3 linked regions of the Homo sapiens genome follow. The protein of the gene in region 3 interacts with the protein of the main gene of each other region in a biochemical or structural test. Each region holds a gene or a part of one and is shown on either strand. Other genes may lie near its edges. The genes, in order: UBE2G2, UBE2O and UBA6.

What was found.
Region 1: the proteins of UBA6 (region 3) and UBE2G2 form a complex in vitro, tested with the Homo sapiens proteins (2 studies listed by BioGRID, with this or other methods).
Region 2: of the proteins of UBA6 (region 3) and UBE2O, one has a biochemical effect on the other in vitro, tested with the Homo sapiens proteins (one study listed by BioGRID).

The regions. Positions count from the first base shown.
Region 1 is NC_000021.9:44,790,316-44,800,617, reverse strand, and holds part of UBE2G2 (ubiquitin-conjugating enzyme E2 G2), read left to right. Parts: intron 1-10,302. UniProt on the Homo sapiens protein: Accepts ubiquitin from the E1 complex and catalyzes its covalent attachment to other proteins. In vitro catalyzes 'Lys-48'-linked polyubiquitination. Involved in endoplasmic reticulum-associated degradation (ERAD).
Region 2 is NC_000017.11:76,392,875-76,403,176, reverse strand, and holds part of UBE2O ((E3-independent) E2 ubiquitin-conjugating enzyme), read left to right. Parts: intron 1-477; coding exon 478-575; intron 576-1,049; coding exon 1,050-1,113; intron 1,114-2,022; coding exon 2,023-2,166; intron 2,167-2,626; coding exon 2,627-2,736; intron 2,737-2,879; coding exon 2,880-3,030; intron 3,031-3,255; coding exon 3,256-3,728; intron 3,729-4,185; coding exon 4,186-4,340; intron 4,341-4,592; coding exon 4,593-4,705; intron 4,706-4,793; coding exon 4,794-4,922; intron 4,923-5,285; coding exon of another isoform or gene 5,286-5,288; coding exon 5,289-5,378; intron 5,379-6,355; coding exon 6,356-7,049; intron 7,050-7,315; coding exon 7,316-7,452; intron 7,453-10,302. UniProt on the Homo sapiens protein: E2/E3 hybrid ubiquitin-protein ligase that displays both E2 and E3 ligase activities and mediates monoubiquitination of target proteins. Negatively regulates TRAF6-mediated NF-kappa-B activation independently of its E2 activity.
Region 3 is NC_000004.12:67,626,314-67,636,615, forward strand, and holds part of UBA6 (ubiquitin-like modifier-activating enzyme 6), read right to left. Parts: intron 9,246-10,302; coding exon 9,140-9,245; intron 8,206-9,139; coding exon 8,116-8,205; intron 8,010-8,115; coding exon 7,929-8,009; intron 7,161-7,928; coding exon 7,032-7,160; intron 5,596-7,031; coding exon 5,544-5,595; intron 5,459-5,543; coding exon 5,395-5,458; intron 4,223-5,394; coding exon 4,153-4,222; intron 2,830-4,152; coding exon 2,758-2,829; intron 165-2,757; coding exon 47-164; intron 1-46. UniProt on the Homo sapiens protein: Activates ubiquitin by first adenylating its C-terminal glycine residue with ATP, and thereafter linking this residue to the side chain of a cysteine residue in E1, yielding a ubiquitin-E1 thioester and free AMP.

The sequences.
Region 1 (10,302 bases), on a different chromosome or scaffold from region 3:
ATCTGGAGGGGATTGGTTCCAGGCCCCGCTGCAGATACCAGAATCCTCGGATGCTCAAGTCCCTACTATAAGGTGGCGTGGTATTTGCATTTAATGTATGCATAGCCTCTCATAACTTTTAAATCATCTCAAGGTTACTTATAGTACCTAATGCAATGTAAGTGCTGCACAAATAGTTACACTGATTTTTTTTACTTGTATTTTTAAATCGTCATTTTTTATTGTTATTTTTTTCAAATATTTTGTATTCCTGGTTGGTCGAATCCATGGATATGCAGCCGCAGATACACAGGGCCTCCTGTAAACGTTCAAATAACGCTCGCCACCTAGTGTCTGCTAAAGCAGAACATAAAGGCACACCTCAGTTTCCCGCGCGCTTTGCTTTATTGAGCTTCACTTCGCAGATCTTGCATTTTTTACAAGTTTACAAGTTTTTTACAAGCAACCCTGCATGGAAGCAAGTCTGTTGGCACCATTTTTGCTCGCTTCGTGTCTCTCTCTTACATTTTAATCTATTACTGTGATCTATGATCAGTAATCTTTGATGTTACTATTGTAATTATTTTGGGGCATCACAAACTATGCCCATAAAAGATGGTAGTCCTAATAAATGTTGTGTGTGCTTCACTGACTGGCTGTTTCCCCATCTCTCTCCCGGCCTCTCTCTTCCCTGAGACAAAACAACATTGAAATTAGGCCAATAGTAACTGTACAGTGGGCTCAAGTGTTGAAGTGAAGAGTTGCACTCTACCCACTTCAAATCAAAAGCTAGAAATGATTAAGTTTAGTGAGGAAGGAATGTTGAAAGTCAAGATAGGCTGAAAGCTGGGTCTCTTGTTAGCCAAGTTGTGAATGCAAAGGAAAAGTTCTTAAAGGAAATTAGAAGTGCTGCTCTGTTGAACACAATGAATGATAAAGTGAAAAAGCCTTACTGCTGATATGGAGAAAGTTTTAGTGGTTTGGATAGAAGATCAAACCAGCCATAACATTCCTTTAAGCCAAAGCCTAATCCAGAGCAAGGTCCTAACTCTTCAGTTTTATGAAGGCTGAGAGCAGTGAGGAAGCTGCAGAAGAAAAATTGGGAGCTAACAGAGGTTGGTTCATGAGATTGAAGTAAATAACCTGTCTCCATAACAGAAAAGCACAAGGTGAAGCAGCAAGGTCTCCAGAAGATCTAGCTAAGATCAAGATGAAAGTGGCTCCTAAATTAAGCAATAGATTTACAAGGTACGTAAAATAGCCTTATACGGTATTGGGAGGAGATGATGCCATATACAACGTAAACAGCTAGAGAGAAGTCAATGACTGGCTTCAAAGGACAGGGCGACTCTTGTTAGGGGCTAATGTCGGTCACTTTAAGTTGACTGAGTTGAAGCCAGTTCTCATTTATCATTCAGAAAATCTTAGGGCCCTTAAAAATTATGCTAAATCTACTCTGAGCTCTAGAGATGGAAAAACAACCTGGATGACAGCACATCTGTGTACAGCATGGTTTACTGAATATAAGCCCACTGTTGAGACCTACTGCTCAGAAAAAAAGATTATCTTCAAAATACTATTCCTGACAGTGCACCTGGTCACTCAAGAGCTCTGATGGAGAGGTATAAGGAGATAAATGTTTTTGTGCCTGCTAACACAACACCAATTCTGCAGCCCATGGATCCGGGAGCACTTTTGACTTATTTAAGAAATACATTTCATAAGGCCATAGCTGCCATGAAAAGTGATTTCTTTGATGGATCTGGGCAAAGAAAATCAAAAGTCTTCTGGAAAGGATTTATCATTCTAGATGGCATTAAGAACATCTGTGATTCATGGGAGGTCACCATATCAACAACAGGCGTTTGAAAAAGTTGATTTCAATGCTCATGGATGACTTTAAGGGGAGGAAGCAACTGCAGGTGTGGTAGAAATGGCAAGGGAACTGGAATTAGAGGTGGAGCCTGAAGATGTCACTCAGTTGCTACAATCTCATGATCAAACTTGAACAGATGGGGAGTTGAGTCTTACAGATGAGCAAAGAAGTGATTCTTGAGATGGAATCTACTCCTGGTGAAAATGCTGTGAACATTGTTGAAATGACAAAAGATTGAGACTATTCCATAAATTTAGTTGATAAAGCAGCCGCAGGGTTTGAGGGTATTGACTCCAGTTTTGACTGAAGTTCCACTGTGGGTAAAGTGCTGTCAAACAACATCACAGACTACAGAGCAATCTTTTGTGAAAGTAAGAGTCAGTCCCTGTGGCAAACTTAATTGTTGTCTTATTTTCAGAAACTACCACAGCCACTCCTGCCTTCAGCAACTACCACCCTGATCAGTCAGCAGTCATCAATATCCGGGCAAGACTGCACCGGCAAAAAGATTATGACCTGCTGAAGGCTCATATGATTGTTAGCATTTTTTAGCAATAAAAATTAAGCATATTTTGGCAAATAATAATTATTTATTTATTTATTTTTTGAGACAGGGTCTTGCTCTGTCACCCAGGTTGGAGTGCAGTGGCACAACCACAGCTCATTGCAAGCCTTGACCTGGGCTCAAGCTATCCTTTCACTTAATCCACCTGAGTAGCTGAGACTACAGGCATGTGCCCCTACACCTGGCTGATTTTTCTGTCTTCATCTTGACCTCCCTCTATGTTGTCAGGGTTTGGCGAAAGTGACTCCATTTTGATTCTGACAATGTTCATACTCGAACAGAGGGTTGGATGTGGGGGACTATTACTTCTGTGTCCTCATGGGAAACCTGGCTGGTGGGTCAGATGTGTGAACACCTACCATTTCTTGGTATCCTGGTTTGTGTTTGTGTCTCTGTTTTAGTTTTATTTTAGCCCTATTTCTAGGGTTAGGCTAGACTGTGAGCAGGTATTTTCTCTTTTTTTTTTTTTTTTTTTTTTTTTTTGAGACGGAGTTTTGCTCTGTCGCCCAGGCTGGAGTGCAGTGGCGCAATCTTGACTCACTGCAGGCTCCGCCTCCCGGGTTCATGCCATTCTCCTGCCTCAGCCTCCCGTGTAGCTGGGACTACAGGCGCGCGCCACCATGCCCGGCTAATTTTTGTATTGTTAGTAGAGACGGGGTTTCACCGTGTTAGCCAGGATGGTCTCGATCTCCTGACCTCGTGATCCGCCAGCCTCGGCCTCCCAAAGTGCTGGGATTACAGGCGTGAGCCACCACGCCCGGCCTTCTCATTTTTATTGAGAAGAAAATCATTAAACCCCTGCATAGGAAATTAAGTTCAGGCTGCTGCTTCAGGCCAGTCTTTGCATTGTTGAACTTGCATTTTCTAAGGATATTTGCATTAGCAAAGATATGTTCTCCCTTTTATTGTCCTGACAGAAGCTTCATCTGTTATTTCAATTATATTGTCAATTAGTTTGCAGTAATAAGACCTAAATAATGGTTGATTTCCGAAGGTTTGTCACGGAAGTGTGTTGTGTGTTTTTACATGTTAACATGAAATTTTGGACTATGTGTAGAAGGTAGAACTCTAAACATACCTCACTAAGATTCCCATGCCCTTGTTATTCAAGCACTTTCTAGTACTTCGGTGGAGGGACTTTGGAGATGCAAGTCAGGTTAGTAATCAGCAGACCTAAAGAGTGGGAGATTATTCTGGATTACCGTGAAGGATCCAATAATAACATAAGGCTCAAAAGCAGTCAGTGAAGGCAGGATGGGGGTGGTCAGAGAGATTCAACATATGACAAGATCTCTACCTTCTGTGGCTGGCTGTGAAGATGGAAGAAGGAGCCATGACCTAAGGAAGGCGGGCAGCCTCAAGAAGCTGAGAATGATCCCAGACCAACAGACCCGTGGAAGTGAATTCTGTCAGCAACCTCAATGAACTTGGAGTGGCAGCCCTGGTGAGACTCTGAGCAGAGAACTAGCTGGCCCATGCTGTGTCCAGACTTCTGACGCTTGGAAACTCTGAGATCATCAATGAGTATTGTTTTAAATCACTAAATTTGTGGTAATTTGTTACAGCAGTGACAGAAGATGAATACAGTGTGTTATTGAGGGGACTTTGTTTTTCCTGTATCTTAATAATGTGATAAAATTTAGTGGGTTTTTTTTGTGTATCATTTACTGGTTTTTTTTGTGTGTGTATCTTAACATCTAGTTTGTCCTCATAACGTATTTTAAGGTAGCACATTCCAGTGTAAAGGTGGACTTGACAGAATCAATCTCTACATAGAAGGGGTTTAGATAAATTTGGTTAGATGTTCATGCACACTTTATTGTATTTGGGAGTAGTCATATAACTGCAGAAATTCAGAGGTGGTGGGACCTTGGCTATGATTCTGTTCAAGCCCCCTAATTTTACAGATTTTATGGAATTGAGCAACAGACAAGATGATTTTGCCTAGGTTCATAAACAGGAAAAAAGGAGAGCCAGGAAAGAACTCAATTGTTGTAAACTGCTGTCTTGTCTTGATGTTCTGTCTTCATTCATCATCCAGCCTTTCCTAGGAGTGTCAGAGATAGACCCAGGTAGAAGTGGGCTGCCCATGGGGGGCTTAGCACAACAGAAATTTATTCTTTTACTGTTCTGGAGGCCAGACATCTAAAATAAAGGTGTTGATGGGGTCATTCTTCCTCTTGAGGGCTCGAGGGGAGAACCCTTACTTGCCTCTTCCAGCTAATGGTGATTGTTGGTCATCCTTGGCGTTTATTGTCATTCTCTTGCTTGAGGTAGTGTAATTCTAATCTCTGCCTCCATCTTCGCATGGCCATCTTCCCCCTGTGTGCATGTCCTAAATGTACATGTCTTTCTGTGGATATATGCTTTTATTTCTCCTGTGTAAATAACCAGGGTTATAATGGGAAGTGTGTGTTTAATTTTTAAAGAAACGGCCAGTTTTCCTCTAGTTCACATTTCCCTAGCAGTGTATTAAGTGTTCCCGTTGCCCCACCTCCTTGCTGACACTTCGCGTGGCCAGTTGTTTTTTGTTTTCTTTTTTCTTTCTTTCTTTCTTTTTTTTTTTGAGACAGGTTCTCACTCTGTCACTCGGGCTAGAGTGCAGTGGTGTAGTCATGGCTCATGGCAGCCTCTGCCTCCTAGGCTCAAGCAATCCTGCCACCTCAGCCTCCCAAGAAGCTGGGATTACAGTTGCATGCCACCTCGCTTAGCTAATTTTTGTATTTTTAGTAGAGATAGGGTTTCGCCATGTTGCCCAGGCTTGTCTCGAACTCGTGGGCCCAAGCAATCTGCCCGTCTTGGCCTTCCAAAGTGTTGGAATTACAACTGCGAGCCACTGCGCCCTTCCAGTTTTAAAAATTTTAGCCATTCTATTGGGTGTATAGCAGTCTTACTGAGGTTTTGTTTTATTTATTTATTTTTTTTTATTTTTTATTTTTGAGGTGCTCTCTCTGTCATCCAGGCTGGAGTGCAGTGGCATGATCTCAGCTCACTGCAACATCTGCCTCCTGGCTTCAAGTAATTCTCCTGCCTCAGCTTCCCAAGTAGCTGGGGCTATAGGCGCGTGCCACCACACCTGGCTAATTTTTGTATTTTTAGTAGAAACGGGATTTCACTATGTTGGCTAGGCTGGTCTCTAACTCCTGACCTCAGGAGTTTGCCTCGCCTCCCAAAGTGCTGGGATTTACGGGCATGAGCCACAGCCCCCGGCCCTTACTGAGGTTTTCATTTGCATTTCCATAAGACTCGTGATGTTGAGCATCATTTCACGTGTTTATTTGCCATCCATATGTCTTTTTAGATAAAGTGACTTGAGTCTTTGCTTCTTTCAAAATTGTGTTGATTTTCTTAAGTTTTAGTTCTTTGGCTGGGCGCAGTGGCTCACGCCTGTAATCCCAGCACTTTGTGGGCTGAGGTGGGCGGATCACGAGGTCAGGAGATGGAGACCATCCGGGCTAACACGGTGAAACCCCCTCTCTACTAAAAATACAAAAAATTAGCTGGGCATGGTGGCGGACCCCTGTAGTCCCAGCTACTCAGGAGGCTGAGGCAGGAGAATGGCGTGAACTTGGGAGGTGGAGCTTGCAGTGAGCCGAGATCACGCCACTGCACTCCAGCCTGGGTGACAGAGCGAGACTCCGTCTCAAAAAAAAAAAAAAACAAAAAAAGAAGGGTTTTTATTATTTCGATGAAATTCAATTATTGACTTTTAAAATATTTCTTGCTATTGTGTTATATTTAAGAAATAACTGCCAAACATCAGGTGGCAGTAGGATTTTCTCCTATGATTTCTTCTAGATGTTTTATAGTTTCAGCTCTTGTATTTAGGTTTGGGATCCATATCAAAGTTTTCCATATGGTATGAGATAAAGGCCAAGGTTTATTTGTAAATTATTTGTAAATGGCAGTGCAGTTGTTTCAGCACTGTGTTTGCTAGGGCTGCTCTACCACACAGGCTGGGCACGGCTTAAACAACAGAAATGTATTTCCTCATAGTCCTGGAGGCTGGAAGTCCAAGATCAAGGATAGGGCAGGGCTGGTTTCTTCTGAGGCTCTGTCCTCTATGCCTGTGTCCTCATCTCTTCTTAAAAGGATATTAGTCAGATTGGATTAAGGTCCACCCTAATGACCACATTAATTTTAATTACCTCTTAAAGGCCCTAGTCACACACTTTTCTCCACCTTCTTTTTTTTCATGTAATATGTCCTGAAGTTTGTTCTGTACTAGCATGTAGAGGTATTTATAGCTGCAAAGTACCCCACTGGTATATGTATCATAATTTGACTGGTCCTCTGTTGATAGACACTCAAGTTCTTTTTAATTTCTTTTTGTTTTTACAAATAGTCCTGAAATGAATAGCCTGTGTATACATTTTTTATCTTCACCAATGTTATCTGTGGGATGGATTCCTAGAAATGGAATTGCTGGGTCAAAGGTTATATTTCACTTTGTGTGGTAGCTATTTGTTAAGCCACTATTTTAAGTGGCAAGGAATGGCCTCTGAAAATTTCCCTGATACCAAGATTCGTCTCTTTTTTTGAACTTGTTTCTTATCAGTAAACATGAAACTGTATATTATTTTGTGTACGCGTGTATATGCTTTGGAAGCAAAAAACAAAATGGAAAAAATAAGTGCCCTGAACCATTCCCTCCAGCCTCTGAACTCATTTGCTGCACTTCTTTATTGACCAGTAGAGGCCACTGTTGAATAACAAAGCTGGCGGGAAGGCCAGCGCACACCCGGGCAGGTCTCTGTGCTGAGCCTGCATTGCCAGGAGCAGGTCTGGAGCTGCAGTTTTTAGACCACCCTTTCCCCTCCCTAAGGGAGGGTGTCACGCAGGGGAGTGCCAAAGGGGAACTCCAGATGAAGAATAAAGCCAGCTCTCTTTGGTACGAGCTCTTCTTCATGGTCCCACGAAGGTGATTTGTAAAGCTTTTGTGTGTTCTGCTGCCAGGCCTCTACTTAGTTGCCCACTGACATTGTGTTTCTCCCGCACCCCACCTGCTTAGCAGTTTACAGTCTATCTGCCGTAATCTGTTATTTTTTTCTTATAATTAGGCGGTTTGGCTTGAGACACAAGAATGGGACTAGATTTTAGATGACTGGGTGTAGGAAGCCTAGCAAATTAGGTTCTGTGGTTATTTCTCCTGATCTACTCCACATGAAGAGACACAAAGGGAGAACATCAGGGTGTGGCTTGTGAAATCCAAGGTCTTAGTCGGCTTGGTACTTGACCTCATTCACATTCAGTTCCCACCCACCCCTGAAATGTTTAATGCACTTGGCCCTTGGGGCCAGCACTTGCCTTTGGCCTGCCTTGCTGGCCCCTCCTTGCCACTCTGCCTTCTCTCACTGCTGGGTGTCAGCACACCCTTGTGACAGCACTTAGGTCTCTTCAGGACCTCTGTTTCCTGGATCAGGGCTTCTCAGCAGGTGTTAGTGGTATTTTGAGTGAAATAATTTTTCCTTGGGTAGGCCTTGTTCTACCCAAGGTTGTGGGTTCATTAAACGGTTAATCGGTACATTAGTCCGTTCTTATACTGCCATAAAGATACTACCTGAGACTGGGTAATTATAAAGGAAAGAGGTTTAGTTGACTCACAGTTCTGCATAACTGACGAGGCCTCAGGAAACTTATAGTCATGGCAGAAAGGGAAACAGACCTCTTCTCAAGGCGGTAGGAGAGAGAAGAGCAAGCCAAGGAAGAACTTGCCACACACTTATAGAACCATCATGTCTCCTGAGAACTCGCTATCACGAGAACAGCATGAGGGAAACTGCCCCCATGATCCAGTCACCTCCTACCAGGTTCCTCGCTCAACACTTTGGGGATTACAAGTCAAGGTGAGATTCGGGTAGGGACACAAAGCCAAACCATGTCATTTCTCCCCCTACCCCTCCCAAATCTCATGTTCCTTTCAAAACCATTCCATTTCAAAACAAATCATGCCTTCCCAGCAAGGCCCCCAAAGTCTTAACTCATTTCGTCATTAACTCAAAAGTCCAAGTCCAAAGTCTCATCTCTGACAAGGTAAGTCCCCTCTGCCTAGCAGCCTGTAAAATCAAAAGCAAGTTAGTTACTTTCAAGATACAATGGAAATACAGGCATTGGATAAATACTCCCATTACCAATGGAAGAAATTGGCCAAAACAAAGGGCTACAGGCCCCCATGCAAGTCCGAAATCCGGCTGGGCAGTCATTAAATCTTAAAGCTCAAAATGGTCTCCTTTGTGACCCCGTGTCTCACATCCAGGGCACACTGATACAGGGAGTGGCTTTCATGGTCTTGGGCAGCTCTGCCCCTGTGGCTTTGTAGGGTACAGCCCTCCCACACCCACCCCCTTCAGCTACTTTCATGGTGGGCATTGAGTGTCTTTGGCTTTTCTAGGTGCACAGTGCAAAGCTCTTGGTGGATCTACCGTTCTGGGGTCTGGAGGATGGTTGTTCTCTTCTCACAGCTCCACTAGGCAGTGCCCCAGTGGGGACTCTGGGAGCTCCAACCCCACATTTCCCTTCTGCAATGCCCTAGCAGATGTTCTCCATGAGGGCCCTGCCCCTGCAGCAGATTTCTGTCTGGACATCCAGGCGTTTCCCTACATCCTCTGAAATGTAGGTGAAGGTTCCCAAACGTCAGTTATTGAATTCTTTGCACCCACAGGCCCAACACCACGTGGAAGCTGCCAAGGCTTGGGGTTTGTACTCTCTGAAGCAACAGCCTGAGCTGTACCTTGGCCCTTTTTAGCCATGGCTGGAGCTGGAACAGCTGGGACACAGGGCACCAAGTACCAAGGCTGCACAGAGTAGCAGCGGGGCTGGGCCTGGCCCACAAAACCATTTTTCCCTCCTAGGCCTCCCTGCTTGTGATGGGAGGGGCTGCTGCCAAGATCTCTGACATGCTCTGGAGACATTTACCCCATTGTCTTGGCGATTAATATTTGGCTCCTTGTTACTTATTTGAATTTCTCTCCAGAAAATGGGTTTTTCTTTTTTATTGCACCGTCATGCTGCGAAGTTTTCAAACTTTTATTCCCTGCTTTCTTTTAAACACGAGTTCCAATTTCAGATCATCTCTCTCAAGTTCAAAGTTCCACAGATCTCTAGGGCAGGGGCAAAATCTCACCATTCTCTTTGTTGAAACATAGCAAGGGTGACCATTGCTCCAGTTCCCAAGAAGTTCCTCTTCTCTTTTTCAGACCACCTCAGCCTGGGCTTCATTGTCCATGTCACTATCAGCATTTTGGTCAAAAGCATTCAGCAAGTCTCTAGGAAGTTCCAGACTTTCCCACATCTTCCTTCTTCTAAGCCCTTCAAACTGTTCCAACCTCTGCCTACTACCCAGTTCTGAAGTTGCTTCCACATTTTCAGGTTATCTTTATAGCAGTACCCCTGGTACCAATTTACTGTATTCATCTGTTTTCACACTCCTATAAGAACTTCCCTGAGACTGGATAATTTATAAAGGAAAGAGGTTTAATTGACTCACAGTTCCACATGGCTAGGGAGGCCTCAGGAAACTTATCATGACAGAAGCCGAAGGGGAAGCAAGCACCTTCTTCACAAGGTGGCAAGAAAGAAGAGTGAAGGAGGAACTTTCGAACACTTATAAAACCACCAGATCTCATGAGAACTCACTGTCATGAGAACAGCATGGAGGAAATTGCCCCCATGATCCAGTCACCTTCCACTAGGTTCCTCCCTCAACACCTGGAGATTACAATTCAAGATGAAATTTGTGTGGGGACACAAAGCCAAACCATATCAATGGACATTTGGGTTGTTTCCAGTTTGGGGCTATTACGAATTTAGCTACTATGAACATTCACACAAAAGTCTATGGCAACATAAGACCCAGTAGAATTGCTGGGTCTTAGAGTCAATA
Region 2 (10,302 bases), on a different chromosome or scaffold from region 3:
TGTTAGTAAACACCTGGGCACCTTCTCCAACAATGAGGGACTTGGCTCTCGATATCCTTGATGTGTTAACGTATTTACTCAGAGCACTGTCCATGTAGCCACCCCCCAGTGGTGTGGCTGCCTCCTCTGCCTGCCACCTCCACAGCCTACTTTGCCAGGTGTCCTGTGTCCATGGATGTCCCATGTCCATGGATGCCATCAGGCCTCTCTGCCCCTGCATCACCCACCCCGTTCCCTCCAGGCAGCCCCACCACCACCACCACTTCCTCCTCACTGGGAAGAGCAGCTGGGATGCAGCCTAGAACTTGTAGGGAGGGCCTGCTGCAGCAGCTGTTTAGGGCTAGTAGCCAACCGGTCCAGTCAGTGAGCTGTCTAGATCCTCCCCCATCCTGTCTTCGGTGGGGCATAGAGGAATCTGTGCCCTGGACATGAACGTTGTCTGCTGTGTCTCACTGCCCCTGCCTCCTTGGTCTGCAGCCCTTCATGTATGGGGACTACATTGCCTATGACTGCTGGCTGGGGAAGGTCTACGACTTGAAGAACCAGATCATCCTGAAGCTATCCAACGGCGCCAGGTAGAGTCTCACCACCAGAGAGCCATCGGCTTGGGAAGGATAGCCTCTTGGAAAGAGGGGAGGAGGAGGGTGTTTCCTCCTGGGGACAGTGATGACAGGTTTGATCAAGGGCAGTGACAGATGTTGCAGGCATCCAGGGCCTAACCCTGTACCGTTCTCCTTATCTGCCGTGGCCTATTTCTGTTGCTCAGTTTCTGATCTGTCCTGGCATGGGGAGAAACGTTTTCACTGAGGATATCTGCTAGAGGCTGATGCTTTACTTGAGGCACTGTGATGGTGCTGAGCAAGCACTCCAGTGGCACTTGGGGTCTTGTTCGTTGTGGGAGAGTTTCTTGTACTACCTCGGGCTGAGTTGATGGTAGAAGACGAATTGTGCTATTTAGGGCATGTGGGCGCATTGGCATCTCAGAATCGCAACTTTTTGGTACTCACTGTGTCCCCTGGTGGAGACCAAACCTCTGTTCTCTGTTTTAGGTGCTCCATGAACACGGAAGATGGCGCCAAGCTCTACGACGTCTGCCCGCACGTCAGCGACTCGGTAGTGTGCTCCATCCAGGCCAGCACCCTTCTCTGATTGCTCAGTCCTCTGGAAGGAGGACTTCGTAGCAAAGACCTGGACCCAGCTAAACAGAGCGGTTTCCTAGAAAAGGGGCGGGTGCGCGCCAGAGGGTCTAAAAGTTTGGGTATAGGCAGAAAGTATTAGAACTTTTTTTTTTTTTTTTTTTTTTGAGACAGAGTCTCACTGTCGCCCAGGCTGGAGTGCAACGGTGCGATCTCGGCTCACTGCAACCTCCACCTCCCGGGTTCAAGTGATTCTTTGGCCTCAGCCTCCCGAGTAGCTGGGATTACAGGCGTGTGCCACCACACCCGTCTAATTTTTGTATTTTTAGTGGAGATGAGGTTTCACCATGTTGGCCAGGCTGGTCTCGAACTCTTGACCTCGGGTGATCTGCCCACAGCCTCCCAAAGTGCTGGGATTACAGGCGTGAGCCACCGCGCCCGGCAGTATTAGAACTTTTATTTGCATTTTTGGTAGCTTTTTTTTCTCATCCTTTAAGGTTCCACTTTGTCTCTCTCAGTACAGGATGATGTGTTAGTTACAATAGTACATGGACACACACAGCAAACAAGTAGATATACAGGGGGTGCGTGAGCAAACAGGTTTCAGGACCACTGCTCTCTGGAGTCTTATTCCTCAGAGTATGAGCCCTTGACCAAGGAGCATGGAATGCATCACCTATGTTTGAACAAGGGCGCCAGATGACCTCTGCGGACCCAGGGTTTGGGAAGTGCTGATGTGGAGCCACAGGACTTGTTTTAGGGCGTGTGGGGCGTGTGTGTGAGTGGGCTTCTGCAGGTGGGCAGCCAGCGGGCACAGGCGTGGAGAGCATGGTCACCCATGGAGACACCGCTCACGGGGACTTTCCTTTGGCCCCACATCCCGCAGGGTCTCTTCTTCGATGATTCCTATGGCTTCTACCCAGGCCAGGTGCTCATTGGCCCTGCCAAGATCTTCTCCAGCGTCCAGTGGCTGTCAGGTGTCAAGCCCGTGCTCAGCACCAAGAGCAAGTTCCGAGTGGTGGTGGAAGAGGTGGGTCCGGGCCCAAGGGTAGGAGATGGAGTCCTTGACCTCCACACCCTGGAGCTGAGCTGCTGCCCCTTTCCTTCCTGCTCTTGAGGGTTGAGCCCCGCTCCTCAGCATCTGGACCCTGTTGATCTCAAAGGGCTTTGGGGATAAAGGGAACCCAGGCTCTGGTCATAGTGACCAAAAGACAGATGTGCCCCAGCCCAGCCTGTACAGGCTGAGCAAGGTGGGAGGGTGGCAAGTGGCAGTTCCAGTGGCCCCTGGCTGGTATGAGCAGTGACACTGGTCCTGGGCATTGGGTGGGGGCCGTGGTTACAGTTGGGGCCTGCTCTGATGTGTCTGTACTTGGTGCTGCACTAGGAAGATCAGTTTCCTGCTCTGGAGGTCAAGTGGGCTTTGGGCAGCTGGCTAAAGAGAGTGCTGTCAGAGCCTGCCCTGACTGGCGTGTCCCACCTGCCATCCCCAGGTGCAGGTTGTAGAGTTGAAAGTTACATGGATTACCAAGAGTTTCTGTCCAGGGGGCACGGACAGCGTCAGCCCCCCACCCTCTGTCATCACCCAGGAAAACCTAGGCAGGTAAGCATGCCCTTACTGCCAGCAACCCAGGGGCACGCGTGGGACAGGGCTCTGGGCCCTGGTCACATGCCTGGGGAGGCTTAAGAACACTGCTGGCCTCCCAGGAGTCCAGCCCAGCTCACCCCCACTTCTTCCCCAACCAGGGTGAAGCGTCTCGGATGCTTTGACCATGCTCAGCGGCAGCTTGGGGAGCGCTGTCTGTATGTCTTCCCAGCCAAGGTAGAGCCAGCCAAGATTGCCTGGGAATGTCCAGAAAAAAACTGCGCCCAGGGGGAGGGCTCTATGGCCAAGAAGGTATGTCCTTGGGGTTGGGGATTGGTGGGCATTTGAGGAACTGGCCTTGAGCCATTTCCATGGCCAAGAAGGACAGTCTGTGCTTTAGGCCTTGGGGGGCAGCCCTGATGACCCTTGCCGGCTACTCAGGTGTATACAGCTGTCATCCCCCCAGCCTGAGATGCCTAGGGCCAGGCCTGCCCAGGTGCACCTCACAGCCCTGTCCTCTCTGCTCCGCCCTTGCAGGTGAAGCGCCTGTTGAAGAAGCAGGTTGTGCGGATCATGTCATGCTCCCCAGACACCCAGTGTTCCCGGGACCATTCCATGGAAGACCCAGACAAGAAGGGGGAATCCAAAACCAAGAGCGAAGCGGAGTCTGCCAGCCCTGAGGAGACGCCCGATGGCTCTGCCAGTCCAGTGGAGATGCAGGACGAGGGTGCAGAGGAGCCCCACGAGGCAGGAGAGCAGCTGCCCCCATTCCTGCTAAAAGAAGGCAGAGATGACAGGCTGCACTCGGCAGAGCAGGACGCAGATGATGAGGCTGCTGATGACACGGACGACACCAGTTCGGTGACCTCCTCTGCCAGCTCCACCACTTCCTCCCAGAGCGGCAGCGGCACGAGTCGCAAAAAGAGCATCCCCTTGTCCATCAAGAACTTAAAGCGCAAACACAAGAGGAAGAAGAATAAAATCACTCGAGACTTCAAGCCAGGGGACAGGTAAACTCAGAGTTGTGCCCCTCCCCAATGGCGTCAGCGTGAAGCCAGGCAGAGTGCGCGTCCCCTCGGTGTGCGTGCCTGCGCTCGCACACACACCTCTGCATGCCTTGTAGTGGCTCCGGGGCTCCCACCCGAGACAACGTAGGTGCCTGGGGTAGGCCCTGGTGGAAAGCAGAGACTGAGGAGTGGTGCAGAGGGTGGGATGGTGGTGGCCTTAAGCTTGGCCTTCTGGAACCACATTTGCCTGAGCTCTCCCAAGTGGATCCTGTTCTCAGAGAATGCGTGGCCTTGGAACCCTGGGTGAGCTTCCTGTGCACCAGAGACTCATCCTGCCAACCTGGGATTCAGAGTTTCAGGTTACCAAGCCCACAGGGACAGGAAGGGACAGAAAGACTCTCTGCCCTTTCCGCGGAGGGGGTGGGGTTTGCATGGCCTGCTGACTGGCCTGCACCCGCAGGGTGGCAGTGGAGGTGGTGACCACGATGACCTCAGCCGACGTGATGTGGCAGGATGGCTCCGTGGAATGCAACATCCGCTCCAACGACCTCTTCCCTGTGCACCACCTGGACAACAACGAGTTCTGCCCTGGAGACTTCGTGGTAGATAAGCGAGGTAGTGCCAGCTCTGGAAGGGCAGCCAGCAGGGTGGTCGCCAATGAGGGCCCGGGTTGGGGCTTGTGGAGAATGGGCAGTGGATCTGGGGTCAGAGCTAAAATGAGGTCCAGAAGGGGACTGCCCTCATGAAGGGGTCTCACCACTTCCAAGACGGGGGAAGGTCAGGGTTCTGCACTCTGCACTGGCTTGAGATGTGGGCTCCTTAGCCGGGATCCCTTAGCTAGTCACTTCCCTTTCTCTGGTTCCCTAGTCCAGAGCTGTCCAGACCCTGCTGTCTACGGTGTGGTACAGTCTGGGGACCACATCGGCCGTACCTGCATGGTGAAGTGGTTCAAGCTGAGGCCGAGTGGGGACGACGTGGAGGTGTGTGCAGCCCCTACTGCTTGCTTCAGGTGGGCTCTGGGGTTGGGTGTAGGACCCCTAGCTCATGACAACCTGTCCTGTGCCACAGCTGATTGGAGAAGAGGAAGATGTGAGTGTTTACGACATTGCTGACCACCCTGACTTTAGGTTCCGTACAACTGACATCGTCATCCGCATCGGCAATACTGAGGATGGGGCTCCTCACAAGGAGGATGAGGTACGCCTTCAAATTCAAGTTCTGGATGGCTGCTCACTGCCCTGTGCACCAGCTGCAGTCCCTGATGCTGCCACCAGGTGGCTCTAGGAGACAAGACCTGAAAGTCCTCTGGGCTCAGTGTCCTCAGAAGGGCAGCTGCCCCAGAGTCAAGCTGCCGCTCAGCACTAGCAGCTGCAGAAGGACTTGTTTCCCTGCCTCCCTTCTGGGGTCAGGCTTCTTGAGCTGCCGCTGGTTACATTTACCAGAGGAGCTAAGTTCCTTGTCACAAGCCAGGTGGGCATGATGTCAGTCACTGCAGAGCACAGGAGGGGCTGGGGAGCTGGAGCTTGAGCTGGGCCCCCTGACTTTGTCCCCTTTGCCCAGCAGCCATCGGTGGGCCAGGTGGCCCGTGTGGACGTCAGCAGCAAGGTGGAGGTGGTGTGGGCTGACAACTCAAAGACCATCATCCTGCCCCAGGTGAGGCTCTGGCAAGACCCCCCTGCTGAGCTTGTGACTATGGCAACTTGGGCCGGGGGCCACAGGCGTGTAGCCAGAAGATGGGCTCTCAGGTCTTCCTGGTGAGATCTCAGCGAAAGCGTGAGGGGAAAGGCAGGCATTCCACACAGCCCTTGGTGCAGGCCTGCAGTTGGCCCACCAGCCTCGCTTCTCCCAGCAATCTCTTCACGTCCATCTCTGGGTGCATGTAGACTTTCACAAACCTCCAGGATTTTCCTGGATTGTCAGCTCACTATGCTACGAAGAATGCAAGTTCCCTCCTAAAAGGAGATGGAGACTTTCCTACCACCCTTTTTAGAAAGCTCTAACAGAGAAGGAGAGAAAGGAGAGAGCCGACCCAGTTCTAGCCCCACCTGCTGGGTCCTGAGCAGAAGGGCTACACGGGCTCTCCTTCCCTCGCCTCCTGGTTGGAGCCACACAGCCCAGCTCTCCTCTCCTGGTCCACACAGGGGGCAGGAGTGGGGGCGGGAATGGCTTGCCCCATCACCTTAACGGCCATTCCAGGGAACGCAGCAGGATATGTCGGCCCTTCTACATGTCCCCTCTTGTCATATGTTCCCAGCTCCCCACACAGGCCTCCTTGGCTGCATCATTAGCTGACCCTGCGCTTTTCAGGTGTGGGACTGGGCCTGCCAAGGTCCCCTAACGCCTTGGACAGATGCTGACGAAGTGCACAGAGCAGGAGGAGAGGCTGGAACAGACCACTGGCTGGGGCTTTGGGTCCAGCTGGAGGGTGGGACAGGTGAAGGGCCTCTCCCAGAGACCTAGGGACTGCAAAAGCCAGAGCAGAGGTCAGGGAAAGGGTGGAATGAGGTTGCCAAGGCCTCATGAGCCCAGTCGCCATCAGCTGTGCGGATCAGGGATCCCCAGAGCTCCTCCTTAGTGGTGGGGAGGTGACTTCCTGTCTGCTTACCCTGGCACTTCCCTTCTGCCCCCAGCACTTGTACAACATAGAGTCTGAGATTGAGGAGTCAGACTACGATTCGGTAGAAGGCAGCACCAGCGGGGCATCCTCGGATGAATGGGAAGATGATAGTGACAGCTGGGAGACGGACAATGGGCTGGTGGAGGACGAGCACCCCAAGATAGAGGAGCCCCCCATCCCACCCCTGGAGCAGCCGGTGGCCCCTGAGGACAAGGGAGTGGTGATCAGTGAAGAGGCAGCCACAGCTGCCGTCCAGGGGGCTGTGGCCATGGCTGCCCCCATGGCCGGGCTGATGGAGAAGGCTGGCAAGGACGGGCCACCCAAGAGCTTCCGGGAGTTGAAAGAGGCCATCAAGATCCTGGAGAGCCTCAAGAACATGACTGTGGAGCAGCTGCTGACGGGCTCGCCCACCTCTCCGACTGTGGAGCCTGAGAAGCCAACTCGGGAGAAGAAGTTTCTGGATGACATCAAGAAGCTACAGGAAAACCTCAAGAAGACCCTGGACAATGTGGCCATTGTAGAGGAGGAGAAGATGGAAGCAGTGCCCGACGTAGAGCGCAAGGAGGACAAGCCCGAGGGGCAGTCACCTGTGAAGGCTGAGTGGCCCAGCGAAACCCCGGTGCTGTGCCAGCAGTGTGGCGGCAAGCCTGGCGTCACCTTCACCAGCGCCAAGGGCGAGGTCTTCTCCGTACTGGAGTTTGCACCCTGTGAGTCAGCCCTTGCCTGGTCTTCGCCTTCCCCCGCCTTCTCGGGGCTCCTGTTTGTGTCACCAGATCTGGGTGCAGGGTGGTTAGTCCCCTCGCCAGACCCCAGCTACTGCCCCAGGGCAAACCATTTCCCTGTGTGGTCACAGTGCTGAGGCCAGCAGCGGCGAGTGGGAAGTCTGTGGGTGTGCTCACCTGTCCAGCCAGGTTGGCAGATGGAGCTCCAGGGCCTCTCCATGAGGGACTGACTATTCTCTTCCCCCCTCTAGCAAATCATTCTTTTAAGAAAATTGAGTTCCAGCCTCCAGAAGCCAAGAAGTTCTTCAGCACAGTGCGGAAGGAGATGGCGCTGCTGGCTACCTCACTGCCTGAGGGCATCATGGTCAAGACTTTTGAAGATAGAATGGCAAGTAGGCTTGGCATGGGCAGGTGCAGATGTGCTGTGTGGGCACCCAGTGCCCAAGAGGCCACCAACCTTGGGTCCCCAAACCTCCGGGGCTGACTGGCACCTGCGAGGACACTCACCCACCCACCTTTTACAGGGGCGGTCACAGGCTCAGTCAGGTGAGGGCTGACTCAGCCGTGTGTCCAGGCCAGATGGTTCTTTCTTTCCTCCCTCCTTTAAAAAATTACTTTCTCGGCCGGGCGCAGTGGCTCACACCCGTAATCCCAGCACTTTGGGAGGCCGAGGTGGGTGGATCACGAGGTCAGGAGATCGAGACCATCCTGGCTAACACAGTGAAACCCCGTCTCCACTAAAAAAAAAAAAAAAATTACAAAAAACTCTCCCGCCACCATGCGGGCGCCTGTAGTCCCAGCTACTCTGGAGGCTGAGGCAGGAGAATGGCGTGAACCTGGGAGGTGGAGCTTGCAGTGAGCCGAGATCACGCCACTGCACTCCAGCCTGGGTGACAGAGCGAGATTCTGTCTCAAAAAAAAAAATTACTTTGAAATAGGCCGGGTGCGGTGGCTCACGACTGTAATCCCAGCACTTCGGGAAGCCGAGGCAGGTGGATCACCTGAGGTCAGAAGTTTGAGACCAGCCTGACCAACCCGGTGAAACCCTGTCTCTACTAAAAATACAAAAATTAGCCGGATGTGGTGGCGGGTGCCAGTAATCCCAGCTACTCGGGAGACTGAGGCAGGAGAATCACTTGAACCTGGGAGGCAGAGGTTGTAGTGAGCCAAGATCGCACCATTGCACTCCAGCCTGGGCAACAGAGCGAGACTTCATCTCAAAAAAAAAAAAATTACTTTGAAATTAATTATATTATGATTACTCCTCAAGCCTACTTTTCTTTTTGAAAAATTAGAACATTACAGATCCTTTGAGTGGAAATGGAAGAGCTAAAGTTGCCTTTGACCAGACCTCACTTCCCTTTCTCCCCGAATCATAGGCCTCTTCCCACACCCAGAGGATTGTTGGAAGTTTAGTGGGTCTCCTTCCAAACGGATGACCTTTTTTTTATACTTTTACATTATTTATACACTAAAAAAATATTTTTACATTTTCATGTATCACCATAAGTACATAATATTTTGTATGATTTGTTTACACACAGAATATGTCGTCGTACACATCATCTCTAATTTGCTTAAGACCAACCTGTGTTGATTCATAATGATCTAGTTTCTTCCTTTTTACCTGCAAAATAGGATGACAGCATGTGGCCACACCACATTCCATTTTCCCACTCCTCTGTTCGTGGACGGGGCCTAGTGTCTCTGAGTCATGTTTACTGAGGCAGCGCTGAGTGCATCCTTCCGGAACAGGCAAGCCCGTTTGCCTGCCACCTTGTTGACTCCGCAGTCCCTTACTGGGCCTGTGCATCGAGCCAAGCACTATGCTAGACTCTGAATCTGAGTCTGAGGCCCCAGTTCTGGCCCTGTCCTGGAAGGAAGGGAGTAAGAAAAGAAAGAGCAGGGATCCTGAGAGCAGCCAAGCGATCCTGAGAGCAGCCAAGCGGGATGCTGTTGAGATGGGCCCGGAGTAGCCACAACCCTGGAACAGGGCTAGGCAGAGTCCTAAGGCCCAGTGCTGCTTGAGATTCTTAATAACGCTTTTGGTTTTTTCTTGGGTTGTAGGAAAATTCCTTTTGAAAATTCTAGCCTGTCTCAGCTCTGCTGAGGGAAGATGGAAACAGTATTTTTTGTTTTGTTCTGTTTTCCCCACATCTCACTCAGGAGAAGAAAAGTAGTGCATTCCCTGGAGGCTCCCAGGGTGGCACCGATAAGAGCATGTGCAGAGGTTCCCTCGCCCCAGCTAGCGCTCTGCCTTCCCTGCTTCTCAGCTCATCACTGACCTCGCCCATTGCCCTGTCAGTTGAGATCCCACACACACGCGTGTGTGCACAGATGCACGCAAATAGATGCACAGATTCCAGATGTCTGTGGAGCGGTGGTCTCCCAACCTCCCCCATGGAGTTCAAACCCTCACTGTCAGCTTCTGGTTGTGAGACCATCCCCCCTTCCCCAGGCCTCACCAGCCTGGAACTGCCTTTCAGCTTGAAACTGCTTGTACTACTTGCCTTGTTGGGGATAAGGGTTGGAGCAGGTGTTTAGAGGAATTGTTTTGTTTTGTTTTTAAAAGACAGGGTTGGCCGGGCGTGGTGGCTCACGCCTGTAATCCCAGCACTTTGGGAGGCCAAGGTGGGCGGATCACAAGGTCAGGAGTTCGAGACCAGCCTGACCAACATGGTGAAACCCCGTCTCTATTAAAATACAAAAAATTAGCCGGGCGTGAGGAGACTGAAGCAGAGAATCGCTTGAACCTGGGAGGCAGAGGTTGCAGTGAGCCAAGATCACACCACTGCACTCCAGCCTGGGGACAGAGCTATACTCCATCTCAAAAAAACACATAAGCCAAAAAATAAAAGACAGGGTCTCACTCTGTCGCCCAGGCTGGAGTGCAGTGGTGTGATCATAGCTCACTGCAGCCTCAGCCTCCTGGAGTCAAGTGATCCTCCCATCTAAGCTTTTTGAGTAGCTGGGACTGTAGGTATGCACCACCATGCCCAGCTAATTTTTTATTTTTTGTAGAGATAGGGTCCCACTATGTTGCCCAGGTTGGTTTTGACCTCCTGGCCTCAAGCAGTCCTCCCACCTTGGCCTCCCAAAAGTGCTGGGATTACAGGTGTGAGCCATCACGTCTGGCTGAGGAATACAATCTTTTTTTTTTTTTGAGATAGCGTCGCACTGTCACCCAGGCTAGAGTTCAATGGCACAATCTCGGCTCACTGCAACCTCCGCCTCCGGG
Region 3 (10,302 bases):
AAAAACTCATCCAGTTCAAAACATTTTTATAAAGATTTTCCCTTACTTTTGGTGGCTTCATTAGATAAAATAGCCTTTTCTAGTTGGAAAATTGCATTCCTCTCATCTTCACTGCTAATAGGAACATGGTCTGGTTTCCTTGCAGTTTCATCTGTTTGAACAACCTTTGAATATATGAATATATTTTTATTAATGTTATCATTTCCTGCATCTGTTTGGTTACCATTTAACTGTTTTATCAAATTACAAAGAGAAAATATTTTCTCTATATATTTTGATCAGATTATTAATCATTGGTCCAATGTATTTTATACGTTCCTTTAGAAGGTATTATTATGTTATTCATGTATGTATTTTATTATCTATCTTCTCGCACAGGCATGTAAGCTCTATAACAACAGGGATCTTTATGTATCTTGTTCACTGACAGAACTCCAATATATCTAATTTTTAATACCCACAATGATACAGTGGGCATAAAAAATATTTACTGAGTAGCTCATACAATCTAAGTCCATACTGATCTTTTTAAAAATTCCACACTAGAATAAAATTAGTATTAATCAACACTTTGTGATTCTGACAAATCTACTTTAAACGCATGTTGCTTTGCTCTAACTAGTACAGAGCTGCTTCACATCAAGGAAACTAAAGCAATCCATAAGATATATAATATGGCCATCCTTTAAATATTCACTGACTGCTGTTAAGTTTTTTCCTTAAGAATATGCCTTCTTTCATATAGAAAGTTTGGTAGGATTAAGGGAGTACATACCACAAGTAATTTAACCTTAAGAAATTACTTATTAGATATTCCCTGAGGGCACGGAAATTAATATTCTCAAACCAAGAAATTAGCTTCATTATCATGAAGTAATATTTATTTAAAAATACACTCAAATCATCGTTTTACAAATTAAACATTATTACAAAAAATTAAGAAATATTAAGGAGTCCAGGAAGGAGAAACTTTTGTTTGTCTGAATGGCTAGTTGATATTTTTGGCTGTGACATCTGTAACCAGCAGTACCATACCTGAAACTTCGGTGTGAGCTCCTTTAGGGAGTTGTGAAAAAGCCCACAGTTCATGTTAAAACTGTAGTTAAATTGCTCAGGAGAATTTATTACCCTCAGACTTTAACACAGATAGAAGCAATGCAAGCCAGAAAACATACCGAAGCAAGAGCAATAACGGAAAGTAAAGTTAAAGCATTTTTCCTTGGCTTCTCTCTAGTTTTGCCCTTGGAAACATGGGCTGGGAACCTTCTTTGGGATTTCTGTTTATCCTCACCCTATTTTTATTCTTTATAGGCTATAAGTCATAAACATTGTGTTCTGCAAATCCATCTACCTGGGCAAAATCAACTGCCCTACAAGTCTTTTTTTTTTTTCCTAAAATAAAAACGCAGAACGAAAGACTGCACACGTCACTTCTTTCTTGAATTTTGCAGGGAGGTGGTCATTACTCCACCTTTTCTGGTATAGCTAAATTTTGTGGATGATTTTTAGAGAACATACAAGAAAGGCATATACTGAACATGTAAAAAAGAAAAAAAAGTTTTCAAACTTTTTTATTTACATTGCCTAAATTTCATGTTCCATCTTTACCAATACTCCCTATTGCTTTTTTTTTTTTTTTTCAATGTATTTGCCTGGCAAAATCCCAACCCTAGTTATATCCAATTTTCCATCCATTATACAGTATAATACCACCCAAGCAGCTAAATTCTGGCTGGAGAAAAGATCATTACCCTTTCTCCAGCCACATTTAGTAGGATACATTAAGCAGATTAACATTAAGTGGATCTTCAGTATTGTCTTGCGTTTTACTACATCTTTTAATTAAGTGACTCTTCCACTTCACTGGACAATTATTTCATACCTTCTTTTCTTTGCTCTTACTTCCTTTATCTTCTTATCCCCTTCACTCTGAGCTACTAAGCTAGCTTCTTATTTCAACTAAGAAAATATTCTTTCTTTATCATAGCCCCAACTATCTCTGTAATTTCCTCATTTAAGACTCTTCCCCTTGTATATTCTCTTCTAGACGAGTCCTGACCTTAAAAGCTTTTCAAGGCCTTTCTCTGCACTTATTTCTGCTGCCTACATTGCTCTTTCACTATTCCTTTACTTCCTTCAGGTTTCTGCTAAAATGTTACTGTTATCAGAGGTTTTCCTCACTTCCATCCCATATAAAATTATACCAGCTCCATCACTCTTTCTTTTCCCTGTTGTATTTTTCCTTCTTAGCACTTACACTCACACTGCAATATTATGTACTTATTAGCATTTTTGTTTATAGTCCCTCTCCGCCCAAAATACATTGGTCCAATGTATTTTATACATTCCTTCAGAAGGTATTATTATGTTATTCATGTATGTATTTTATTATCTATCTTCTCACAAAGGCATGTAAGCTCTATAACAACAGGGGATCTTTATGTATCTTGTTCACTGACAGAACTCCAATATATCTAATTTTTAATACCCACAATGATATAGTGGGCATAAAAAAATATTAACTGAGTAGCTCATACAATCTAAGTCTATACTGATCTTTTTTAAAATTCCACACTAGAATAAAATTAGTATTAATCAACAGTTTGTGATTCTGACAAATCTACTTCAAACTCAAGTTGCACTGACAAGAGCAAGAGCAAGAACCATTCATTGTGATATTCTCCAGGTTTAGAATGGGACTTGGTACAAGTCCAAATTCCCAAACTATTTGCTGAATGAATGATTTTTTAAACATACCTTATTGGAAGGCTTGAATTCCTGAATCTTTACTTCTGAAAGAATATTCAAGAGGGCATCTGCTGATAAGTCCTGTTTTTAAAAAAGTAATTTTACCAACAAACATATTCTTCTAAATTCTAAAGCTAAAAATATCCTACAAAAGGTCCTTAATCATATTACAATATATGAATATTTCATTATCTGAATATGTAGACATCCATTTGAGACATTTATCTTTATTTCTATAAAAATATCCCCCCATAAAGGTTATGGGGGAGGAGAAGGTAAGGGGTAAAAAAGTACTTATTAGTCAACAAACTTGAAATTTTAGTCCTTCTGCAAATTTTTTAAAAGGCATTTTTAGGACTGGTTGTAAATATAAAACTGAGTGACTTGATCAGTCAGTTTTAATTCCCTTAGCTTTATGTTTTATGTTTTTAATGTTTTACAAAGTTCCCTGAAGTAAGTTATACTCAATAAGTAAAATAAGTAAATGGAATTCATACCTTAAGAAGGAGGGAGATATTTAAATGGTTAAAGATGAACTTATATGAATTTAAAGCTATGGGTTGTATTTACATTTGTCATTGAGAAGTTGCTTGGCAAAGGCTGAGACTTAGTGCTTTTGAGGTCAATTACCACACTCACCACTAAATTACCACTGATTTTCCCAAAAAGAATATCAGACTGAATGCCACTATTTTTACCAAATATTTACAGTTTATTTGTATGAATTCCAAAAAGGATTAATCTAAAACAGATATTGTTATCTGAATCCAAAACAGCCAGTGTTAATTATGGGATCTGATTCATGTTTCTCTATTTAGCCCACCTAAAAGTACAGCAATTTACTTAGCTAGAATATGCATTTGTGAAGAAAAGAGATGCCTCTCAAAACCGTATGAGGCTCTTTAGATGTTAGTCAATGAAGATGATGTTTAAGAGAATGAGTATGATGCTAAAGTAAGAAATGTCAATATAAGGGAGCATTTTCAGATTTCCTGAAAAGCACATAAATTATCACAAAATAACAAACAAATGTTAACAAAGAAAATCTCTACGCAGTATTTCAAAATTGCGATGAAATGGTTTGCTGTGGCTTTTTAGAATAACTAGGATAACTGAAGCTGCTAAGCAGGTTATAAATATTCTTAAAACAAAGTTTAACTGCTTTTAACAAATAATGCTGTTTCACTGCTTCAATTCAGAAGGAAAAATCCGACTTCTACTTAGCAATACTGCAATGAGCTTTTAGCTTCCATTATGTTAGTATGGGTAAAAATACAATAAAAATTCTGTATCAAAAAGAGTGATTCTTATAACAAACAAACATGTTTTGATGCAATTAGTGCATCAGTCATCTAATTCTAATTTGGTTTTGCATCACTTGCTAAGGCTTAAAGAATATCTTACCTCTTCTGCAAATGGAATACAATATACTGTAGCATATAGTTTTGCAGCATTCTGAAGGAAACTGAGGTGCCTTTTGAAATTAAAAAATAAAGCAAAATTTGAATGTACAGTTTTAAAGACGATATTTAACTCATTATGAACTATAGCCTTTAAATGTAGTTTGAAGAAATATAACCACAGAATTATTATTTCAAGTTTTTTTTTTTAAGTTAGACAAAAATATTCTGGTCTACACCAAAACACTACAGAAGTTATAAAAGACAAAACATCAAACAGTTATTCTCAAAAACACTTAACATTCAGGTAGTGATCATGACTACCTTGGGAAGAGGAGTGAGTGGACAGAACCAGAAAACTCAGACCAGTGAACAATAATTCATTTTAAGTCATAAGAAATATTATACATTTGGTCTTAATGAGTATATATCAAGTTCAAACTAAGTAAATGTGTTTATTTAAAAACAAAAAAAGAAAGTCTTATAGAAGAAGCAGTCCAGCATAAGGTGACTGGAAGCCTAAAACCACCACCAGATGAGAAAATTAAGCATAGAGTTATCTGCTGAAAGGAAGGTTAGTGAATGCAAGCTAAGTGTTTAAAAATATATATACATAAGGTTGGGTGTGGTGGTATGCACCTGTAATCCCAGCTACTTGGGAAGCTGAGGTGCGAGGATTGCTTGAGCCTAGGAGTTCAAGACCAGGCTGGGCCACATATGTGAGACCTTGTCTCTTTCAAAGAATAAAAACTAAATTAAAAAAATAGAAAAAATATACATATACACACAAGTGTGAATCTAATGTGTATCTAATATAGTGTTTCCAGGTATTCACACAAAGACCAACTCCTCTGAAAATAATTTGAGATTTAGGGAGTTATTCAGTAGTAATTATTTGTTCCTCCATATAACTGAAGATTCTTATATTTGATTTCATTAAATGTAAAAACACATTGTCATTTTACTAATTTATGGATAAAGTAAAAAAGGTGATTTTGGTTTCACCTTAGATATTTATTATAAATAATGAGGTTATTTACCATGTAAATGAATGGATTCACATTTGTGTGGGAAGGGTTGTGGCTGGCTTTCTTGGTCAGAATGACTTGTTAACTCTTAAATGAACAGGGATGAAATAATTTAACATTAAAGAGCCTAAGGTTTTCACTCTGCAATGTACAGTTAAGGAATTTACAGTAAAGAAATATATAATGAAGGATACATAAAACTAAATATAAATACTTACAAAGGCTCATTTAAATCAAATTTTATTGGAGAGGGTGGCCTCTTTGGTGACTGCCAAAATAAACCTGGCAAAAAGATACAAATATCATTTTCAATGTATGTAGCCAGTAATAAATGTCATTAAAATTTATTCTCAACATTTATACTTACTGCCATCTTTTAATCGTATGTCCAGAGGGAAACAGTGAAGAAGCTGAAGAGCCTAAAGAAAAAAAATGAATTAAAGACACCCACTACTTAATATTATCTGAGGAAAAATTAAAAAATAAAATTAAAAAATGTGTGTAGTAAATATATGCACATGATTCAAAAATCAAAACACATTAAAAGAGACACAGTGAAGTCTCCCTACCACCCTTGTATTCCATCTGTCCATTCTCCTGTCAATGTCCCTCATAAATGAAAAATTCAAATATCATTTTCTATCACTATTTGTAGGTTTATTGGGAGGTGGTATCTACAGCAAACAAATGTAGATTACTTCACTCCTTTTTATATAAATGGCATATTTTACATGTCATTCTGTTCTTTTTAAAGAGCTAGTACTTAAATAACAAAACCAGAAAAAACACACAGTACTTTGTATTTTTGAAATTGATACATGTTTGAGATTTGCTTCAAAATCACCTGGGGGAAGGTAAGAATGAACGGGAATGGTGATGAAACAAGATTTATCTATGAATTGATAACTGCTAACCCTGGGTGATAGGTAATTGACAATTACATTAGGGTTCATTATACTATTTCCTCTACATTTCTATGGCTGAATATTTTTCATTATAAAAAAAGTTTAAAAAAAATGCACAGAAGATAAGAACTAAAGAGTTCCTTAGATTTTTGAAACGGGTCATTGATAACCATGTTAAGAACAATCTGAAGAGTAATGAGCAAAGAAGTCAAATTTACTGGGTAAAGAAGTGGTAACATTGAGTAGTACAGACCACTTTTCCAAGAAGTAGAGCTCTGTTGAAAGTAAAAAGAAGAAGTATAAACGAAATATTTTTTAAGTGGGGTGTGGTGGCGTGCACATGCAGCCTCAGCTACTTAAGGGCTGAGGCAGGGATCACTTGAGCCCAGGAGTTCCAGGCCAGACTGGAAAACATAGGGAAACCCTGTTTTTTTGTTTTTTTTTAAAGTTGTTTCTAAGGAAGATGAACTTAAGATCCTAAAGAGAGGGAAAGACTAAAGAGAAGGCAACACACATTCCAGCAACTATATTTAACTGGAGGTAAGAATAACAGCTAATATTTAGTAATTTTTTATGTGCCAGGCTCTGTTCTAAATGCTTTGTGTTACCTCCTTTTATCTTTACCACTACCTTATGTATTAGGTACAAATTTATTATTTCTATTTTACAGATGGGGAAACAGACATAAAATGTGATTATCAGATATGGGTGGAAATGGCAAAATCTCAGCAAAATTTCTGACTAAATGTCCCTATTTTCTCAGTTTCTTGCTTCTTCTATTCTGAACAAACTTCTTTTAGATTAGCATGTGTTCTCATTTAACTTACTACTAATTTCTGAAAAGCTTGCCAAAAGAAAGAATACACATTTCAGGTCAATGAAATTAATTTGTTAATAACTAAATAAGCCAAGATCAGACCTTTTCTTAATGTCTCACAATGCATACTTACCTTATGGTTAAAATATTTTTCAAACTTTAATCTTGCTAATTCTACACACTGGGACCAATTTCTAGGTCTTCTGCTAAGTAACTTTATAACTTGAAAACAGCCTTCTAAACTGTGTCCACTCTGTATCTTCTAGAATGGGAGAGAAAAAAAAAATCAACATACTTCCAATTACAAACATATACACATCCCTCACCAAAAGTTAGCCTAAGTTTGAAGTGTCAACTCATGTGTTTTATGCTTTTCTTTTTTCACCTCAAGCTCCTTTTCCCTTCCTTCTTCTTTAACCTTTCTTTTCTTTTCTGTTTGAGAAGGGGAATGGTAAGAGATAGCATACAAAATTTTAACTCTGATTTCTTATCTTACAAGTTATCCTCATATTTTCCTAGCTGTAAGTTATTAGTACTATAATATATGTACTCACTATAAGTGCTATGAATATTTGATACTAAAAAGTGGGCCTTGTTAGCAAAAGATTAAAAGAAAGTGAGAAAACATCTTTAAAGTTGCCTTCACTATAAGAGTAATAAGTCTTGGAGATTATTGTTCCCTCATGAAATTTTAACTAGAACTTACCTCAATTTTTTCTTTCCAAAGGGCTTAATAAAAGCCCTTTTATTATTTGTAGCCCTTCTATCATAATTATCATATCTTTATTAGCTCGCACCATACGAATTGCTGTTTTGTGAGTCGAACATGCTCAAATATCGACAATTCCATGTAGTTCAAACAACCAAAATGATAATTTGTGACCTAATTTCAAGATTCCTTATGTATCATTTCATTTTTTATATACAATCACTCTTTATGGAGGTAAAATAAATCACTTGTAGATGACTTGAAAATAAGATTACACTGACACAAAGTGTTAAGTTTGTATTAAAATTTACTGATTTTTACCTGTAAGACTTCTTCTGCAGATGAATAGGTTTGCCAAAATTTGTTAAACAATGAAGGTTTGTGGGAAAAGGAACTTTCAAACTGTAACAGAGAAAAGAAAAAAAAAATTACAAATAGAAGTCTGTTTAAAGTCAGAAATATCTTCTTTCTCACTTCAAAGAAAATAAATTTAAAAAGGAACTTTTACCTTATCTCTTGCCCACTGTATGGTATGTTCAATAGCAGCTGGAAAGGATTTTAGAGTACAAAATGGTATTTCCTCTTCTGGGGGATCCCGCTAATTTATAAAATATGACAACAGGTACTTAAGGGGAAGCAATGACCAATTTTTATTGATTTAATCTAGTTTTGAGCTTTAAGCCTATTAAAAATCCAAAAATAAATAAAATCCAACCAGACATTTTTATATCTTCTCTCTCTTAGGCAATAAGAGAAGTTAATTCTTTTGACATTTAACCTATTTGTTAATAGCTATGTAATGCCAAACATGAATCTTATTTATTATTTGTGTACTCATTTAAAGCACCATGTAGTACTCATGACACACCATCATCTATAAATCATTTTTTTCCTCATGAATCAAGGTGACATTTAAAGTTTTATAACACTGCCCCGCTTTGAAAAGTAATTCAGGAATACCCAGTATAGTGCTCAGAAAAGCATGAGTTTTTCCATGGAGAAAAACATCTGGGAGCAGAAATATGTCCTCAATGCTTGAGGTTTCTTGCAGAAAGCATGTATTAAATAAATGGTAAATACCTAAGTCGTTTTTTGTGGATAAAGTACCATTGAAGAAATCCACATTCTATTATAGAGTACATTTTGCCTAGGTTTATTGGTTTACCTAATCTAAAATGACTCACTTTGTCTCAGCAAGTGAATAAAATTTTATGTCTTTGTTGACAGTTCTAGTCTCAATCTAATAGTTTGTTCTTATCAAACAATCTTAAACTCAAAGGGTATTAGAAAACTAAGCAGCTCTGAGAAATAAATAGTAAACAGAAGAATAATGCTCCAGAAACACCAGACACAAAATTCTGATAATTAAAAAAAAGTTCAATTATATTTTAAAAAATGTACATGCACATATGTATGAACATCATTGGCAGAGCAAAATCAGAAGGATTAGGAAAGCTAAATCAAATTGTTGATTAAGACAAAAATTACAAGATATAAAAAAGACATCTATTTCAAAATATTGATTCACTTACATGACTATTGTAAGACTCAGTCAAATGCGGTACAATAACTTCAGTGTGTCCCTTAGTGCCCATTGTTCCAGAATCTAAAAGAGGCCTTAGATTTGCTAAGCAACGACTATTTGAAAAGACAGCAAGTAAAAAACAAAAAAGTGAGCAATAACAATGTAACCAAAGGACAACCTACAACTTTCTATTGACCATTTCACATACTGATCACTTCTTGAATGCAGTATTTTAGGAAAACAGATATACTACTATCAAACAGTGGATCATTCCTGTTCCCCTATTCTGCAATATACATATACATCTAGTAGTACCCTAAATCTGGGGCTTTCTTAACCTTTATCTCTAGGTTAATTCCTAACAATATTACTCCTTTTCCCTTGCTTTATATTTCTTCTTTGGTTATTTTCTAACTACAAGTTCTACCACACTATCTCTTCTCAATATTTTCTTTATCCCAAATAATATTAATCTTCTTTCTCAACACTTACAATACCTATATTCTACAAATTTTTATTTTTTAAAGTTTTATTTTCTTCCCCTCTTTGGCCCAAGATTACATACTTTTCACATTTTTCAACTGATAAATTCTCCCCTGTTAATATATCTGCTCTACACCCTAACATTGAGGAGTCATATAAAGATGTAAGGTGAACACATTTATAGTCATTCATTCATCTACTTATTTAAGGAATATTTACTAAATGACATCATATGTTGGGCACTGAGGATACAATGACGGAAAGTAAATGGTCCCTGGATGAATGATTTAGTGAGGACACAAACATTAAATAAATATGCATATCAGTAAAAATGAGTGCCATGAAGGAAAAAGTACATAGTGTTATGAAAATCACCATAGGAGGATTTAATTTAGAATTTGGGGGAAAAGAAAGTCTGTTTTGATAAAGAAATTTAGGTCCCTCTCCCTCTCCTGCTCCCGCTCCCCACGGTCTCCCTCTCCCTCTCTTTCCATGGTCTCCCTCTGATGCCGAGCCGAAGCTGGACTGTACTGCTGCCATCTCAGCTCACTGCAACCTCCCTGCCTGATTCTCCTGCCTCAGCCTGCCTAGTGCCTGCGATTGCAGGCGCGCACCGCCACGCCTGACTGGTTTTCATATTTTTTTGGTGGAGACGGGGTTTTGCAGTGTTGGCCGGGCTGGTCTCCA